Linked DNA regions of Homo sapiens. The protein of the gene in region 3 purifies or fractionates together with the protein of the main gene of each other region. This does not show direct contact. Each region holds a gene or a part of one and is shown on either strand. Other genes may lie near its edges.

Region 1 (4,796 bases), on a different chromosome or scaffold from region 3:
TTTTATGGCTGCTTAGTATTCCATAGTGTACATATACCATGGTGTATATGTATTTTCTTTGTCCAGTCCATCACTGGTGGGCATTTAGGTTGATTCCATGTCTTTGCTATTGTGAATAGTGCTGCAATGAACATTCACCTGCATATCTTTATGGTAGGATGATTTATATTCCTCTGGGTATATATCCAATAATGGGATTGCTGGATCGAATGATAGTTCTACAAACAATACTTATCAAAACTTGTGGTTGCAGCTAAAGTTGTATTAAGAGGGAAATTATAGCCTTAAATACTATATTAAATTAATTAAATTCTGGTAAGATTGGTCAAGAAAAACAACAAAAAAGGGATGAAGATAATGCTAATGCAAATTAGAAAATGTTATAAATTTTAATCATATTTAAATAAACTTATATGTAAAATAATCAGTTATGAGAAAAGTATGGGACCAAAACATTCAAAAAGAAATAGAAAATCTGAATGGCCCTATGGCCATTAAAAATGTTGGTTTATTAGTTAAAAGTTTTCCTTCCCTCAATACTCACCTGAGTTTGGACAGATGCTAATTCCAGGGTTACATAAGCTTTTTCAAAAAACGGGGGGGAAAAGTAGCAATTCTCTTTTCATTTTCTGAGTCTTATGTACTACAATCTTGTTAAAAAAACTAGCAAGGAGAGTAAGAATGAAACTTAAAAGCTAGTCTCACTTAGGAACCTAGCAAAACAACCCCAAAATCCAGCAATGTATAAAACAGATAACATGACCAAATTTGACTTATTCTAGAAATGCAAGGTTTAATTAATATTAGAAAATTGTCCAAAATATTTACACATTAATGAAATTATGTTACTACACATTATAGGCCTTTGCATTATTGATTTAGTATAGTCTTAGTTAAATCTGAGAATGCCAGGTGGCTGGAGAGCATGTTGAATAACTAAAATTCAGTTTTGAGTGGAATACTGTGGACCACAGTAGATGGCACAATTAATTTGATTAAAGGGAGTCAGATGGTCTCTCAGAGGTGGCAAAATGTGAGTTAGGTCTTGATGAATAATATTTTTATCAGCATGTTTGAGATTTCAAGTGGAAATAATGGGTGCTGAAGTATGGCAGTGGCATTTGGGAATGGTAAGTGATATAATTAGAGCATGGTAAGGTTATCAGGAAGTGGCAGGAGATGAAACTAGAGATTTGTGCCAAATTGTGAAAGGCCTTGACTGCCTTGCTTCTTGCTAAACAGTGGAATTTATCAACCCACTGAGACAAAGTCAGTTAAGATTTTTGAGCCTTCCATATATTTAGCTGCTTATATTTAATGTCTTGTCTTTAAAAATAACACGTATGACTTGTTGTTTGCATGCTTTTGCATATATAACTTATTTGAAGTTAGGTGCTTCTACTGATTGACTTTGACTTTTTGTTCACAAAAATATAGGGATCTTGATTTATGACTGGACCACTTAATGTATTAATTTGCACTGTGTTATATCCTAAACTTTTAAAACTACTCATGACTAATGTCTTTCACCAAACTGTTACCTACGAACTTTCTAAAGAAATGTGTGACAAAGGCGTGATTAGTTTCATTTGCTCTGCCATTTTTAGCTGTATATGTGATAAAACATGTTTTAATACATCTCTTTTTAACTTCGATTTTATTTGGAATTTTTGAATGAGCTGTTTGTTTGTTTTTAAGCAAAGTAATTGGAGTGAACTTTCTTTGATTCCCAGGTTTTCTTTTTTCCCCTTTTTTCTTTTTTTATTGCATTGGTAGATGCAGGGCAAGAAATTTATTACTCTAAATTTGTGACTCAGAATTTTAAAACTAAATTAACTTCATAAATGCGCTCACTTTTTTCTTAATGCATTACGTCTAACCCCCAGTGATACTTTTATTTGATTTTCTTGATTATGTAATTTGTTTGATATTTCTTTTATTTAAGGTGTGACTGCACAGAAAAGTTACAAAACAAATTTGACTTTTTGCGCTCACAGTTGAATGATATTTCGTCATTTAAGAATATCTACAGATATGCCTTTGATTTTGCAAGGGTAGGTGCAATTTTCTTGTTTTGTTGTTTTAATAGCTTTTCATCTTGAGACCACACTTAGGAAAACTTTTTCACTTATATTTTAGGATAAAGATCAGAGAAGCCTTGATATTGATACTGCTAAATCTATGTTAGCTCTTCTGCTTGGGAGGACATGGCCACTGTTTTCAGTATTTTACCAGTACCTGGAGGTACGTATGTTTTTTCGAATTTTGAAAATATTATTTTAAAACTTAATCTGAAAGTTATACTTTTGAGGAACAAGTAGATTTTTAATAGTATGCTTTAAAAAAACTTTAGAGAAAAAATTCTAAAATATGTACATATCAGTTGCTATTTTTAGATAGAAGTTCATGTTTATTAATATATTTTGTACCTAAGATATTTTCAATCCTACCCCCCCAGTCCCCCAAATAAAAGAAACCTCCAAGAAATACATTGTATCACAGACATTTGTCTTGCAGAATTAGTTTCTCGGGGTTTTCATAAGAGAGTTAATGCTAGTACACAAACCTTTAAGCTTCTAAATCTGATTTTCTTCTTTTGTTACACAGGGTCTTAAGCTGAAATGTACATAAGAGAACCAATTTAGTAATAAAACTTTCCTTTTCTACTTAGGCTCAATCTAAAGAAACAGAATAAAGCTATTAATATTTTATGGCCACAAATATGAGAATGGCTATAATAGTATACTTAAATATGCTGGTTACTAAAAAAATGTAAGCTGAAATGATGACGTGTTCTTTTAGAAGGTTTATCATAGCAACTACTATAGGCAGTGATTCTAAGAAGATGCTATTCTTTTTTTCCATTGCTTTGTCTAGTTTTTTTTTTTTAAATCTGTTTTTGTGCCTTTGTAATTCTAGGGTTATTGGTATAGTTCTCACCATATCTTGAATACAGATGCTTTTTCCTTTGGAAATAATTTCTCATAAAGCACATTGCTTATAGCTGCTTCCCTTTTCCCAGAGTAGTAAAAGTTGTGATACAAGACAGTGATATCAGCTGGGCGTGGTGGCACACGCCTGTAATCCCAGCACGTTGGGAGGCCAAGGCAGGCAGATCACTTGAGGCCAGGAGTTCGAGACCAGCCTGGCCAACATGGTGAATCCCCGTCTCTACTAAAAATACACACAAAAAATTAGCTGGGTGTGGTGGTTTGTGCCTGTAGTCCCAGCTACTCGGGAGGCTGAGGCACGAGAATTGCTTGAACCAGGGAGGTGGAGGTTGCAGTAAGCTGAGATTGCACCACTACACTCCAGCCTGGGTGACAGAACGAGACTCTGTCTCAGAAAAAAAAAAAAAGAGACAATGATATGAAAAGGTCTTACATGAATGAGTTTTACGCATGATTCAATCTGTAAGTCCTATAAATTATTTTTGATGGATGGTATCTATTTTCTTCCTATTAGTAGTTTTGGGCAAAAATAAATTTAACTGAATGTAAAAATATTCAGCTCTATGGGGAGCTGAGAAGAACTAAATATTTTCAGACACTTGTTATGTGCAGGTTGTTTGGCATATATTTTTAAAAATCTTTATAATACCATTTTGAATTAAATTCTATCCCCATTTAACAAATGAGGAGGTGGTTTCTATTCTTAAGTAACTTTCCCAAAATCACTCAATTAAGTGGCAAGGGTGGGATTTAAATCGAAGCCTATACTCTTTCACTTGTTTCCAAAGATGCCAAACTCAAAATGTGGCTAAACAGTAAATCTTGAGCAAAGAAATGATTTACTAGGAAGCAGCACAATAGAACATACTGGATGTAGGAAATGTTATATATCTTGATCTCATTGGTGGTAACACAAGTATATACATATGAAAAAGTTAGTTTTATCCTTACTGTTAGTACTCAGTGCTCTTATTATTCCTCAAAAATGAAAAAAAAAGTAAAAAATAGATTATGTTAATATGTAAATGCCCATGAGGAATCTCTTAGAAACACAAATAATTAAAAAAATAGTAAATGTTTTAGAAAAAACCAAATCACAAAAACAGTTAAAACTTAGTTTACTAAATTGAGTAAATGATGTTTGTTTAAATATTTAAATACAAATATTTAAATCATTTTTGCAGCAATCAAAGTATCGTGTTATGAACAAAGATCAATGGTACAATGTATTAGAATTCAGCAGAACAGTCCATGCTGATCTTAGTAACTATGATGAAGATGGTGCTTGTAAGTATAACATAACATGTTCCTTTGAAAACAAAATTTCCAAAAATATTAAATGAGAGTATGCATTTGTGTAGTATTAGCATAGAGGTTTTAAACTTTGTAATAGTAACTTATTTAATTGTGTGAGGGATTGTGGGAGAAGTAGAGAGAGAGCTTAGATTCAGCAGTATTATATAAAATCTATGCTGGTAAATGAAATGTTTTCAGTTCCTCGGCAACCAAACATTTTAGCTAAATTTAAATTATAATTTTTGCATCCAGAAGCTAAAATTCAGCTTTGTTTCTGTCTTTCCTGGCATTTGCCTATGGAAGAAAAGTACAGTCATGATTTTAAAAATATAACAGCAAAACAATCAGCCACAATAGAAAAAGCTTTAACATTATTGTAATATTATGCTACCCATTAACAATATGGCAAATAATGTCAGTATAACTTCTCTCTGAAAACTATAAATTGATTGTGAGCTAACTGATAGTGAAATAGTTATAATTTTTCAATCCGTCAAGTTAAAATATCTGTCCATACTCCTCCATGGAAAGGCTAGAATGCCATAAAAC
Region 2 (4,796 bases), on a different chromosome or scaffold from region 3:
CAAGCTACTAAAAAATTACACAAATCAAAAAGTGTTACCTTTGTTCAAATAATACTGCTGTTCATTATACAACAGAAAACATCATCCTTAATCTCTCAGGAACCAAGATAGTGGTGGATTCTTGGAGCAGAAGTAGTGCAGAATGGTTTGCGGCAAAATCGAAACATATTGTTTAAGTAAACCTTAAGGGGAGGGGAGCATATGCGCAATTGATGGATTTTTTTTTTTTTTTTTGGTATCATCTTCCACAAAACCTCCCACCAACCCCTCCCCACCACTTACCAGTAAACAATCTGCGATATTAAGGGACTGCAACTCTAAACACCTCCCTTTGCCTTATTTCCTTCTTGCTAAACTTTATTGCTTTTCCTCATTTTTGAAGCAACAAACAAAATTCATTAAATAAAAATTTATTAACAGATGCAGCCATAACATGAAATGTATGTTTGAAAACTTTGTAATAAATAAAATGAATCTAGACTTACTCCAAGAAACTTGCACTATGCTGATGTGAACAACATATACATTAAGTTCCTAAAGTTTTTCCAAACAAATCTTTAACTAAAGAAGCCATAAGCAAAAAAGGAATGCCTACGATTTGAACTAGAGTCTGTAACTCTCGCAAGAAAAACTGAGAAACATATCAAGTAAATCAAAACTGTCAAATTTATAAGCAGAGAACACTTCAATGCCCCAAATTTGCGGAATGCTTTTTATAGTCATAAATGCCTTAAAGACTGTACTCTTCCTTGTGTGACACTTAATTTTCACTATATATATTATTCCTTAAATGTGCTCTAGGTAAAGAAGGAAAAAAAAAATCTATCAGGAAGAATTTGGGTTAAAAGCAAAGTCCACGACAAGTAACCGTAAGATTTAAACCTCAGGAACAATTCACAAAAGAAAAGTCGAAACAGTACTTAGTTCTGAGCCACCGAATGGGGCGGAGGGCCTTCCACTAAACCCAATAATTTCTGGGTGGAGTGTCTTTTCCCAAGGAAGAGAACACTAGCACAAATCTTTTTGCCCCCTAAAAAGATTTTCCTACTTGCCAGCTTCTGAAGTTGCCCTGATGTCAATCAACATCACCAAGATGTCTCTTAACTGGAGAAAGTTCTGTTTGCCTGTGCAAAGTCAGAGAGAAAGAAATGACTATTTATAAAAAAAAAAAAAAAAGGAAACTATAAATACTGTTTGATAAATAGGGTTAAAAAATTATCATCTAAAATTGTAAGAAAAAAAGAGCTGCCTGTAGAAACGCACTGACCCTTAAAATTAATGTTTTCAATCTAAAAATGCATTTTCGTAAAGTTTCATCTATTTTCCTTCCTCTGCACATAAAAATGATTAATGTCACATTTAAACTTCCACATTTTAGGCTCTTGCTAACAGGTGTCGCATTCGTTATATAAACATATTCTTTGACCTGTGGCCATTGATAACCTTAATTAATTAATCTCCATTGAAACAAAAACAAATGGATTTTTTTTCCAAATAAGAAAGAAATAATGCAACGCAAATACCCACTTTCCCCAAAACCCAAAAACTGTTTAAGTTACGGTAACCTGAAATGCACCAGCCATCACAAAGAGCAATTGGAGAAATCCAGCAGTGCTCAGCAGGAAAGATTTTTAATAACAGATTGAAAAACAAGAATAAAAATAACTGCATCAACAGAGCCTTTCTTCCTCAGGCCACAAGCCCGTTCTTACTTGAACTTTTTTTTTTTTTTAAATGGCATTTTGGCCACTAAAACCAATCCAGAACATTATTAAAAGTTAAAAGCTACCAATTACTTCTGTCTGTTCTTTTAAAGCAAAGTTTGGCATTACGTCAGTTGGTTTAAAGAAAACAAGAAAGAGAGAGAGAAAGAGTAGGAGAGAAAGTTTCCTGCTTGTATAAACTAAACCACCAGGGAAGGTGTCTAGCCACTTGTAAAGTATTTACTGCAGGTTTTTAAAAGCTAGAAACATTTTAAAAATTAAAAGTTTTTTGTTATTATTTTTAGTGAAACACACTTAAGAACGACAAGTGTATCCTTAATGTCTTCTTTGGGGTGTCTTAATGTTATATTTGTATTTCAGTTATAGCTTAGAATCAGAAAATGATTTCAAATGATGCTCCAAATTTGAAGTACATAGATAATTTCACCTTCATTTTTGCTATTTGGATTTGTGCTCTTGGAAAAGGAAAAAAAAAAAAAAAAAAAAAACTGGGATAGCAAAAAGTAGACCGCTACGATAATAGCTGCTATATGCTGCAGGGACCAGTAGAGTTTCTTCACCTAACTAATGCTTAACAATTCAAATGGTTTTCACCTGTAGATCCTACTGCACCTTCAGAGATTCCTGAAGCTCAAAGATCTCTTTCTAACCAAAGTCAAGTTCTACATTATTGTGTCCATCAGAAAACCAAACTAAAGGCCAAATTCAGTTCTCAGGAATAGGAGAACAACTGAGCACTGTGATAGCTCAAAAAGTGATCATAATAATAAAATCGAAGATATTATTTATAAAGGTCATATATAATTAATAGAATATTTTATACAAACAAATGACTTTGGCCCTACTTACATCGGAGGATAAATTTTAAAAAGTAGTTACATCCTCTGCAGCACTGTTTGCTATAGAACAATGGTATAAAACAAGATTTGGTATTTTAGCTTATTTACTTTAATCCACTGGTTACAGCTTTTGGGAGACAAATTATTTTTAAAATTACACTAAAACAAACCTCTACATAATTTTTAATGTAAATAATTGCAAAGTATGTTAGTCTTTTCTATACATGACAAGCACTCTTAAACAATTAGATTAAATGTCTACTTGGCAAAGGCTAGAAGACCATCTTTATGCTATATCTAAGGGGGACTCAAAAATTCCATAAATCATAACTATTATGGTAACAAAGAATTTACTTATTTCTGTATAATAACAAAAGATAAATGTCATTTTCACAGATAAGCCATCAAAGTAAACGCAAGTCTACGTATGCTGTCATTAATTTCCCAAAACTTCAACAAATGGTAAATAAGGATGATAAATGAGTAAACAAGACTCAGAATTAGTTATCAATGGTATTAGCAGTTATCATCAGCAAAAGAGGGAGAAAAAGAAACCTATTACCTGAAAGCTTGACCTAGCAAGGATGAACAACAAAATACGAGCCCATAAAACTTGCGGGTTTTTATCAAATTGATTGTAACTTGTGAGCTGCAATATTTGGGACAGAACTGTCTGAGTTTATAGTTTTCTATGCCTGCTAAAAACAGATGCAGACTACCACACTAGCTGTCCTGCGGAAACTAAATTAAGGAAAGGCAAATACCAAGTGGAAAGTTGTCAGCCTGTTGAATGAATGGCTTCATTTTACACACCAGAGAAATCTTAATAAGAATATGTTTTAATGTAAGCCAGTCATTTTAAGTTCATCACTTATTACAAAAATAATCTTTCCTTTAAATCAATTATAGACACCTGCCCATAACTTTCTTAAAGTCTGTGTTGTTGTACACGTAATAGCATAGTGTTGTTACATTATTGTTGCTATCAAAAGAAGAACTGAAGTTAAAATATAATTATTCTAAAATATTCATGTTATGAAAAATGTTTAAAGGTCAGTTATCAGCATTTATTCCAATTTCAAATTTGGAATAAAGTTCTAGTTCAAAAACAATTTGCTGCAAGTCCTCTGGAAACTTTCAGTAATGTTTATTTACAACAAAGAAGGTAAGACAAGCGTTTATAAAAATCTACAGTCTTTGGTTGCTTTCTTAATAAAAATGTACACATCATTAATCACATATTGTGGGTTGTATGTCTGTACACACATACACATATACATCTAATAATAGTAGTGATAATAGAACCGTCACTGAAATACTAGAATCGTAAAAGCTGCTTTTCTACAGATGCATGCATTTCCCTGTTTTAAAGGTCTTCCTTATGAATGAATATTTCCTTATAGGAAGAGATCTATATGATGTAAATCAGAATAAACTCAGGAGTGGTAGGTGACTTAAATAATACTGAAAATATGGTAGTAGTATGTGTAACTTATTTCGGATTAGCACACTGATTCCGATCCTAAACTGGTTTTCAAACACGTATGCAGAAAATTTTATAAAATCATTTAAAATATTAGTCATCGAAATGCTAAGTTCTAAATTCAGCTCAGACTTCACAGCTATTATGACATTTTTCTCCTTACCTTTAACGTTACCTTTAAGAGACAAAGGACAAAACCTAAATAGTAGCACAGACCCTTACAGCATCTAGAATTCAAAGGAGTGACAAACTTTGTGTTAGTAACTTGCTACTTTCCACCACTTATTTGAAAAGTGTTAGACTTAGGTATTATGTATGGAAAAGCAGTCTACACATATATATCCTAACATATAACATACATATCAGGAAGCCATAAACATCAGCTCGCCAGTGGTAAATAATACTTCGCCAACAGAGTACTAATGAAGCTTCAGAAGGCCTCACATTCAGAGAAATCAAGTTATAATGTTGGTATTAAGGCTCTATTTGCCCCTCAGGAGTTTTATTTTCACATTATTAACATCCAGAAATAATCGTCAAACTTTAGCATGTTACTAGCCCTGTATATTGAACTGAATCTAGAGATGTTTTTATCCAAAGGTGTAGCTTTAAAAGGAAGTTATGAAATCCAAGGAGAGAGAAACTCTAAGAATATGTTTGACTTGTTAAGATTAAGCATATCATTAATAAACTTTCACTTAAAGGTAAAAAAAAAAAATCCTCAAAATGTTGGTATCATTTCCAGACTGT
Region 3 (4,796 bases):
ACACAGTTGAGATGCAGCAGAGCTGGGACTTGAACCCAGGTCAGTCTCAGCCCGGTATCTCAGGCTCTTGATGATGACATTTTGGTATCTCTCACAAAATGTCAGAAAGAGAAGAGAAACCAGCCTGGCGTGGTGGCTCACACCTGTAATCCCAGCACTTCAGGAGGTTGAGGCGGGCAGATCACTTGAGGTCAGGAGTTCGAGACCAGCCTGGCCAACATGGTGAAATCCCATCTCTACTAAAAATACAAAAATTAGCAGAGTGTGGTGGTGCGCGCCTGTAATCCGAGCTATTCAGGGGGCTGGGCCAGGAGAACTGCTTGAACCCGGGAGGCAGATGTTGCAGTGAGCCGAGATTACGCCATTATACTCCTGGGTGACAGAGCAAGACTCCATTTCAAAAAAAAAATAAAAAGAAAGAGGAGAGAAGAGAAACCAAGTCTTGGAAGGCAGGGAGAAGACGCAGAAGACAAGGAATTTGGAGGAAGAAGAGGCTGAGGGGTTGGGAGGGTGGGAAGAAAATGACCAACACTCAGGAGATGGGACAGGAGGCCAAAGTCGGGGTGGGGAGGCAGCACTGGCCAATAGAACTTTCCAGGGATGGAAATGTTCTATTGGATGGAAATCTGTGCCATCCAATACGGTACCCAGTGCCCACATGTGGCTACTGACCACAGACCACGTGGCCACTGAGCACAAGTGTGGCTCATGGACCTGAGAAACAGAATCTTTAATTTTATTTAATTTTAATTTAAATAGCTGCATGAGGCTAGTGGCTACAGTATCAGTCACAGCCCTAGTAGCCCAAGAGATAGTGGTGAAGAGACTTAGATGTCAGAGGTCAGACCAGGCGCAGTCGCTCACGCCTGTATTCCCACCACTTTGGGAGGCCAAGGCAGGAAGATCGCTTGAGCCCAGGAGTTTGAGACCAGCCTGGGCAACACAGCAAGACCCCAGCTCTATTTTTTTTTGAGACAGAGTTTTGCTCTTGTTGCCCAGGCCGGACTGCAATGGCGTGATCTTGGCTCACCGCAACCTCCGCCTCCTGCATTCAAGCGATTCTCCTGCCTCAGCCTTCCAAGTAGCTAGGATTATTACAGGCTGTGCCACCACACCCAGCTAATTTTGTATTTTTTTAGTAGAGACGGGGTTTCACTGTGTTGGTCAGGCTGGTCTCGAACTCCTGACCTCAAATGATCCACCCACCTCGGTCTCCCAAAGTGCTGGGATTACAGGCATGAGCCACTATGCCTGGCCTCCTTTTCTTATTAATTCTTTGTTTATATGTTTATTGTCTGTCTCCTCCCCCGCCCACCAAATATATGAAGCTCCGTGAAGGCAGGAATTTCACCTGTCTTACTGCTGTGCCCCCAAACCAAGCACAGTATCAGGCACTTAGTAGGCACTCAACAAATACTGGACTGGCCTCCTCTAGATTCCTGGAACCCAGAAAGATCTCCTACCTGAGGACTTTGTCGTGTGCTATTGTGTCTGCCTAATATATTCCCACTCCCATTCTTTTTTTTTTTCCTTTGAGATAGAGTCTCGCTCTGTTGCCCAGGCTGGAGTGCAGTGGCACAATCTCAGCTCCCTGCAACCTCTGCTTCCCAGGTTCAAGCGATTCTCCTGCCTCAGGCTCCGGAGTAGCTGGGATTACAGGCGCACATCACCATGCCTGGCTATTTTTTGCATTTTAGGTAGAGATGGGGTTTTACTATGCTGGACAGGCTGGTCTCGAACTCCTGACCTCAAGTGATCTGCCCTCCTTGGCCTCCCAAAGTGCTGGGATTACAGATGCGGGCCACCATGCCGGGCCTCCCACTCCCATTCTTCACCTGGCTAAGTCCTACCCGGCCTTCAATGTTATCTTCTCAGAGAAACCCCTAGAACTTTCTCCTCCACCCCAGAACCTGCTGTGGTTCTTCACAGCACCTCACACATTCTTCGATTTTCTGTTTATGCAGGTGATGATTTGATGAACGCTCATTTCCCCCATTTGACTAACAGCTCCATGAAAGCGGAAACCCCAGCGTCAGGGCAGTGCCTGCCCAGCCCCCTACCTTCCAGCTAAGCAACCCCCCTGCAAAACCCTCAGCCCCCAGGTACTTGATCTGATGCTTCCCGTATCCCCATTCAGCAGCAGCTCCCCAGTGACCTTCCTTCTCTTCCAGTCTAGATCCCACACAGCCTGTCACTGCACTCTTTTTTTTTTTTTTGAGCTGGAGTCTCGCTCTATTGCCCAGGCTGGAGTACAGTGGCACAATCTTGGCTCAATGCAACCTCTGCCTCCTGGGTTCAAGTGATTCTCCTGCCTCACCCTCCTGAGTAGCTGGGACTACAGGTGCCTGCCACCACGCCCAGCTAATTGTTTTTTGTTTTTTTTTTTTTGGTGTTTTTAGTAGAGACGGGGTTTCACCATGTTGGCCAGAATGGTCTCGATCTCCTGACCTCGTGATCCACCCGCCTCAGCCTCCCAAAGTGCTGGGATTACAGGCGTGAGCCACCACACTCGGCCCTCACTACACTCTTTCTCTGACAATACCGTCAACACTCCTGCCTCACCGTCCTGCAGCCACACTACCCAACCAATGCCTAGCCTGGATCCATCAGTTCCTCTCTGGGCTGAGAAATACACCCCTAGCCCGCCACGGTGGCTCACGCCTGTAATCCCAGCACTTTGGGAGGTCCAGGCAGGGGGATCACTTGAGCCCAGGAGTTCAAGACCAACCTGGGCAACATAGCAAGACCCCCGTCTCTACAAAAATCAAAAAATTAGCCAGGTGTGGTGGCACATGCCTGTAGTCTCAGCTACTCAGGAGGCTGAGGCAAGAAGATTGCTTGAACCCAGGAGGCTGAGGCTGCAGTGAGCCATGATTGTGCCACCGCACCCCAGCTTAGGCAACAGAAGAATATCCTGTATAAAAAAAGAAAAAAAAAAAAAAGCACTTCCCATCATCTTCTGGGGCCCATTTCTATTCTTGTAGGCTACAAACATATCCCGTCACCTCAAGGCTCTCTCAGAACTGAAAAGGACACTCCCACTTACCTCTGGGAAACATTTTCTTCCTTCTGAACCTAAGAGAAGATTAATTATAACCTCTGTTCTACCCTCAGGTCCAAGAACCACCTAATAGAGGCTGGGCACGGTGGCTCACGCCTGTAATCCTAGCATTTGGGGAGGCTGAGGCGGGTGGATCACGAGGTCAGGAGTTCAAGACCAGCCTGGCCAACGTGGTGAAAACCCATCTCTACTAAAAATACAAAAATTAGCCGTGCATAGAGGCAGGCGCCTATAGTCCCAGCTACTCGGGAGGCTGAGGCAGGAGAACTGCTTGAACTCAGGAAGCGGAGGTTGCAGTGAGCCGAGATCGCACCACTGTACTCCATCCAGCCTGGGCAACGGAGCAAGACTCCATGTCAATAAATACATACATACATGCATACATACATACATACATACATACATAAATGGGGGGACACAGGAGCTAGAAGGTGGAGTGAGAAAGGTCTCTGTGGGAGTGTGAGGGTGGGGGGCAGGTGCTGAGCCAGGACACATAGTACTCACTCTGGAACATTCCAGGGGGGCCCAGATCCTCCAGACCAAAACTGGAAAAGCTCAGAGGCCTGGATAGGACACAAAGAAAAATGGTTGGTCAGTCCCCTGTGGACAGCTGCAGCCCCATCCATCCCCCTTTGCCCCCACGTCCCACAATCCCCAACCTGGACCACCTGAGGACCAGTGGGACCCAGTTTGGCCTGCAGAGAAGGCGCGGAGATGAGCTGGGCAGAGGACATGGTTGCCATTGTCTGGAAAGCCTTGTCCTTGGAAACCTGGTCCTGGAGGAGGAGGCGGAAGTTCATGTGAGAGGGGCATCTCAGTCAACATGGCAAGAGGGGGATGGTGCCAGGGTGGGGTGAAGACGGGGAGGTGCAGAGGTGGGGAGTCAAGGCAAAGGGTTAGTGGCCGGGCATGGTGGCTCACGCCTGTAATCCCAGCACTCTGGGAGCCGGAGGCGGGCAGATCACTTGAGGTCAGGAGTTCAGTATCAGCCTGGCCAATATGGTGAAACCCTGTCTCTACTAAAAATACAAAAACTAGCCAGGTGTGGTGGTGCACACGCATAATCCCAGCTACTAGGGAAGCTAGGGCACAACAATCACTGGAACCCAGGAGGCAGAGGTTGCAGTGAGTGGAGATCGTGCCCCTGCATCCAGCTTAGGCGACAGAGCAAGACCCTGTCTCCAAAAAGAAAAAAAAAGGCAAAGGCTTGGGTTGGGGGAGGGTTGAACCTCTCCCCACAGCCCTCTGCCCCTCCTCAGGGACAGGGCACTAGTTTGGAGTGAGCGTGGGTGGGAGGATGGGCAGAGGAACTTACCACGTTCAGAGCCTGCCCGTGGGGGTGGGGGAGGGTGCCAAAGGAGGAAAGAAAACATGACTTAGGAAGTACGGCCCGGACTCCCCCACCTCCCTGCCCTACCCGCCCGCACAGCCCCGCCACCCTGAGCTGAGCAGTGCCAAGGGATGGATGCGCAACAGGAAGTGGAGGTGGCCAGCCCTGGAGGGGAAAAGGGGCTCCCTGCCCAGAAAGACAGTGATGGGGGTTTCTAGAACAAGGAAACCCAGAAGGTTCCCAGATGTCCAGGAGACAGGAAATGAGAATTTCAGAGCCAGCGGGAAGACAAGGTAAATGTTTCCTAATCCAGACAGAACAGACAGGGAACACAGAAGGTCGAGAACAGACCGGAAGGGAAGGGTTTCAGACCTAGAGAGAAAGAAAGGGAAAGCTGCTGGATAC
Region 4 (4,796 bases), on a different chromosome or scaffold from region 3:
ACCAGGATACCATGCTGTAAACTCAGCCCTAGCATTGGCATGGTTGAAACAGTCATTTTGATTCATTTCATTAGGAATAAGTTACTTCAGAAAAGTAACTTTTTTCCTTGACTAAAAGCATACCCTGCAGGATGCCACTTCAGCCATTTTTAATGGAACTCTTTCTGCAATGTATTATGTAACTTTTTTAAGATTGTATTTCAACATCATGATTATCTTAGTGATAGCTAGCATTTAATGACCACGTTAACTGCCAAACACTGTGAACACTACATATATCATTTATGATTGCCATCCTCTCTTCTTGTCATAGGGTCATCATTACCAACAGCAGGATATGGTATTTTGGTATAATATAGGAATGCCTTTAGGGGTGACTTGGATGGACAAGGCTGCTTTCACCTACATGACATCGTACAATATATTCTCTCCTTTATGTTTTTCATGCTGACTTTTTTACATAGTTTTTATACTAGGGTATAGTTAATTATAATAACATTTCAGCAAACACATACTTATTTCTTGACAAATCATCCTAAGAGAACAAAACGATGCCAGCATCATTTTTTTGTTTGTTTTAGAATGAGAGTTTGGAAGAACAACTTTTAAATAAATTAACAGTTCTTACACTGCCTTTATTTCGGAGTGATCGGCCCTCTTGACTAGCTTTCTCCAAAAGGGTTTTCTGAAGGTTTACCAGTTGTTCAAATGATTTTCTGTCTTCCTTACTGGGCTCTTTAGAATAATCTTTACCTTCAAATAAGTACATATGATTTTCTAACAACATAAAACACAAAGAGAGAAATGTTAGATACCAAGGAAAAATAGATTAATGCTATTCAAATCAATAACAAAAGTGGACAGGAGAACAGCCTATATTCTAAATGGGCTAAGTCCATATGAAGGAAGGTATTTCATTTCCCATCCCACTGACACTGAAGAATGTGGGTTCTACATGGGGATCCCATGTGTTTACTTTTCCAAGGGGAGAGCATGGCTTAAAACCCTTTGGTTCATCCCTAGATGGTTTGTGAATCTCTGCTGGATTCTTCCATTCATTCCTCATTCATTTATTCCCAACTATCCCTCAGCGCAAATCTCACTGACATTAAGATCATCTAATAAAATCCGTACTTTTTTATTCCAAACACACTTTTAATATTCAGCTTGGCAAATCTATGAGAAAATGAAGAATCACAAAAATAATCCCTTGGATTTACAATATTCTTTACAGATCTCATCAAGCGTCTTCGTCATGATCCTCACCACAATCCTGGTATAACTAATCCTACTTTTGAAAGGGAAAACTGAGGCTTAGGCAGAAATTAAGGGACTCTGTAATTCTCACTGGAAGAGGCAGGATTTTCTGATTCTAAGGCCAGTGTGCTCTTTTCAGTATATAATTGGGTCTCTAGAAGGGTGGAGAGATTAACAGGCTAGCAAATAATAACTGTGGTAATAATAACAATGAAGACAATAGTGTCATCTTGAATAGCACTTCATGCTGTCAGATCACTTTCACAACTATAATCGTGTCTGATTTTTCCAACTGTGTAAAAGAGTAAAGTAGGCATTAATAGGACCATTTTACAGATGAGAACAAAAAGGCTCAATGAGGTTGAGTGATCTGCCAAGATCATGAATCAAGTGATTAAGAAAAGTCAGGACCAGCCAAGACTAGCAACCACAGATAGGTAAGATAATGATTGAATCGGGAAGCATATTTAGTAGCACATGTTACCAAATAATATATTTTCACAATATTTGTGAAATCCATTATAAGTATGTTTTCCCTAGAGAGTATGAAAGCAAAACATTTTCATTCTCAAGAGATCAATTGCTTCACACTTGTACCCAAATCTAACCAGCTGTAATTCTAATTGGCATTTGCTAATTAAATCAGCAGGGGGCTTTCAATGAGGCACTCTATCAACAAGTAGAAAAAAATAGAGCTGAGAAGTGTCAAATATGATCAACATATGTAGCTTCATACTGCATGCAATTCTCAACTTCCAACCATGCTTTTTAAAAAAATGTTGGCATTTAAGATAAAGCAACCCTGTTTTTTATTTAATTCTGATTGGGGCCACGTTAGTTACTAGTCTTTCCTATCCACTTATATTCTTTGTAATCATACTTCCTATCTTCACTCTGCCATCACAAGCCTAGACCCGCGTCTCTATCCTACCAGGAGAATCATTTACCACAGAGCGGACCTATATCCATTCATCGAAGAGAAAATTCCAAAGTGTAATACAACTGGGGATTTTTTCTGGCAGTTGGACTGTCTAAATAAAGTAAAATTATTTTAGGCAGTTGGATTGACTGAGAAATATAATTATCTTTCTGGAAAAGAGTGTGACTTTATTTTGTTCTAGTAAACGTTAGGAAAATAAGCTGAAATTATCTAGATCAGTACAGAACTGAGTGTGTTGCTACTTAATATAATCAATTATAACTTAAAAATATGATCACATGCATCTATTTCTTCTCTCACTTGAAACCACAAAGTGACAGTTAAAGGAATTTTAAAAAAGATCTATGAGGCAATGGTGGATGAAAAAGTTCAAGAACCTTTTGGAAAATGCAAAGTTGCTGGAGGGATAATGACAGATTAAGAAGAGACATGGAAACAAAACACAGGTGCCTAGCCAAGGGCTCATTAGGAGTCTAGAGACCCTCTCAATCCCCCAAGAGCTTAGGACTTACAAGTACAGAGTACTGCAAAGCGGGGAATTGAGAGAAGATCTGCACCCCAAAGAGCAGGAGTGCCATGAGCCCTTGACTCACCCCGCCTTTTCAGTTTCAGCAACCAGGTGAACTCCATTCTCACCTCTCCCAGGGAAAATACTAGAAGATTGGTCTCTGGAGAAAATGGGTTGCCCAGTGAAAAGACATCAAATATGGATCAGAGAAGGTGCCCTCCATGTAAAAGCTGACTCACCAACCAGGAATAAGTCCCCAGGGCCCATGCCAGAGCTGCCCTCAGCTTTGTGGCACTTCATCAGCACATGTGATCAGACAGCCAGGGAATACCAGACGGTTGGGGAAACTATCGATGAGAACAAGAGATCCCCAAACGAATTTTCCTTTTTAGAAAAAGAGGTACCATGGTGACTATAGCTAATGATGACATATTGTATTCCTGAGAAATACTAGGAGAGTGGACGTTAAGTGTTCTCACCACAAATATATAACCATATGAAGTGATGTATGTTCATTAGCTAGATTTAATGATTCCACAATGTACATGTGCTTCAAGAAATCATGTTGTACATGATAAATACAATTTTATCTGCCAATTTCAATAAATAAATAAATATATATATATTTTTTTAAAGAAGTAGAAGTAAAAGTCAATGCAATGGGAAGAGAAATACTTTTTAAAAAGATGTAATATTCTCCCTGGAATACATATTAAGAAGCCATAATAAATGTCCCCAGAGAAGACAGTATGTCCTTGAAATGAGAACAGAGTTACAATTAAAACAATAAGCAGAGAACAAGAAAGAGTTCTTGAAGAATACAAACAAGATATTTTTATAAAGAATTTCGAAGATAAAACATAAAATCAAAAAGCAGTTTCCTGTAAAACAATGCCAGCTGCCCAAATTCCAACTTTTCCACCTATCCCACAAAAACTATACAGATCAACAAGGACAACAAAACCACCCCAATCCATGCCTACTACATTAGGAGTCAGAAAATATTACACACTTCAACTTATGGAAGTTAAGAGAAATGAACCCCCAAAACCAGCTCCAAAGCCCACACTAGAGTAGACAGTCAGGCAGAGACTATGCAGTGGAGAGGGCAGGAGGGTTCCAGAAAGGTCAGACAGATAAAAGTTACCCACAAAAGACAGTCCCATTCCAAGTGGGAAAATAATGAGGATAGGTCTGAGTGGATCAGAGCAGTGGCTACTAAGGAACTGAACAGAAGGGAAGGTATGAAAATACATGCAGCCAGGAATTAGGGAAGGCATTGCTTCTGGCAGGGAGAGAGACAACTTAGAAGTGGGAAGACATCCTTTGACAAGTTTGTGGCACAGAGAGAAAGCGAGCGATGGAAATTCACGGTCCTATAGAAACAAAAGAGAACTACAAAACCAGAAATCATGCCACTACCACTACCCAAAATAAAAAGGAGCTACCATCTAGTGAAGAAACAGCACTATTGTGTATAATTAAAAGAAAGTACTGGTGAATTAAGAAGCCTAGTAAGACTCCCAAACCTCTCACCCCAGTCCATATTGAATCTCTGCTGCAGCTGGTACAGAAAAATAAGTCATTTCAAAATAACTACAAGATGCCAGGGAATACCTTTACAAAGCTACCATGTGAAAAATTACTTCAAATCGGAAATTTAAGTGCTCAGAATAGAAAAGAACAAAATGACAAATGCTGACCAAATTCAGGAAAGAAAATTAAGAGAAAGACAAAACCATCTCCTACATCTCATGGATTACAGAAATTAAATGGAAAAAGCACATGACAAAGTCCGCACTGTTGATGAACGCAAAATAAATGCTTAATGTTAGCTGCAATTTTAAAAACAAGTAATTCTACTGTTTAGAAGAGGAATCGCTATGTGCAAAGCATCATACCAAGGATGGTAGGCTTTACTAATAAAGAAGAAGATGTTTGCAACCAAGGGAGAAAAGGTACAAATTCAAAGCCTTAAGATTGATACTATCATAAACATTAATACTATGATTTTGGTTCACAGTTCAGCTACAAGGGAAGAGCCACACAAATTTCCAGTTAGTTTGGGTAACGTTCTTTTATCAAGCAAGT

The links. Proteins that work in one complex are often made in the same cells at the same time.
Region 1: the proteins of TEAD2 (region 3) and DCUN1D5 purify together in Homo sapiens (affinity purification with mass spectrometry; one large-scale study listed by BioGRID and IntAct). This does not show direct contact.
Region 2: the proteins of TEAD2 (region 3) and TRPS1 purify together in Homo sapiens (affinity purification with mass spectrometry; one large-scale study listed by BioGRID and IntAct). This does not show direct contact.
Region 4: the proteins of TEAD2 (region 3) and CHD1L purify together in Homo sapiens (affinity purification with mass spectrometry; one large-scale study listed by BioGRID and IntAct). This does not show direct contact.

What each region holds. Positions count from the first base shown.
Region 1 is NC_000011.10:103,063,717-103,068,512, reverse strand, and holds part of DCUN1D5 (DCN1-like protein 5), read left to right. Parts: intron 1-1,945; coding exon 1,946-2,054; intron 2,055-2,139; coding exon 2,140-2,244; intron 2,245-4,135; coding exon 4,136-4,238; intron 4,239-4,796. UniProt on the Homo sapiens protein: Contributes to the neddylation of all cullins by transferring NEDD8 from N-terminally acetylated NEDD8-conjugating E2s enzyme to different cullin C-terminal domain-RBX complexes which is necessary for the activation of cullin-RING E3 ubiquitin ligases (CRLs).
Region 2 is NC_000008.11:115,661,532-115,666,327, forward strand, and holds part of TRPS1 (zinc finger transcription factor Trps1), read right to left. Parts: intron 1-4,796. UniProt on the Homo sapiens protein: Transcriptional repressor. Binds specifically to GATA sequences and represses expression of GATA-regulated genes at selected sites and stages in vertebrate development. Regulates chondrocyte proliferation and differentiation.
Region 3 is NC_000019.10:49,351,583-49,356,378, forward strand, and holds part of TEAD2 (transcriptional enhancer factor TEF-4), read right to left. Parts: intron 4,389-4,796; coding exon 4,377-4,388; intron 3,838-4,376; coding exon 3,730-3,837; coding exon of another isoform or gene 3,721-3,729; intron 3,625-3,720; coding exon 3,566-3,624; intron 1-3,565. UniProt on the Homo sapiens protein: Transcription factor which plays a key role in the Hippo signaling pathway, a pathway involved in organ size control and tumor suppression by restricting proliferation and promoting apoptosis.
Region 4 is NC_000001.11:147,280,332-147,285,127, reverse strand, and holds part of CHD1L (chromodomain-helicase-DNA-binding protein 1-like), read right to left. Parts: intron 778-4,796; coding exon 629-777; intron 1-628. UniProt on the Homo sapiens protein: ATP-dependent chromatin remodeler that mediates chromatin-remodeling following DNA damage.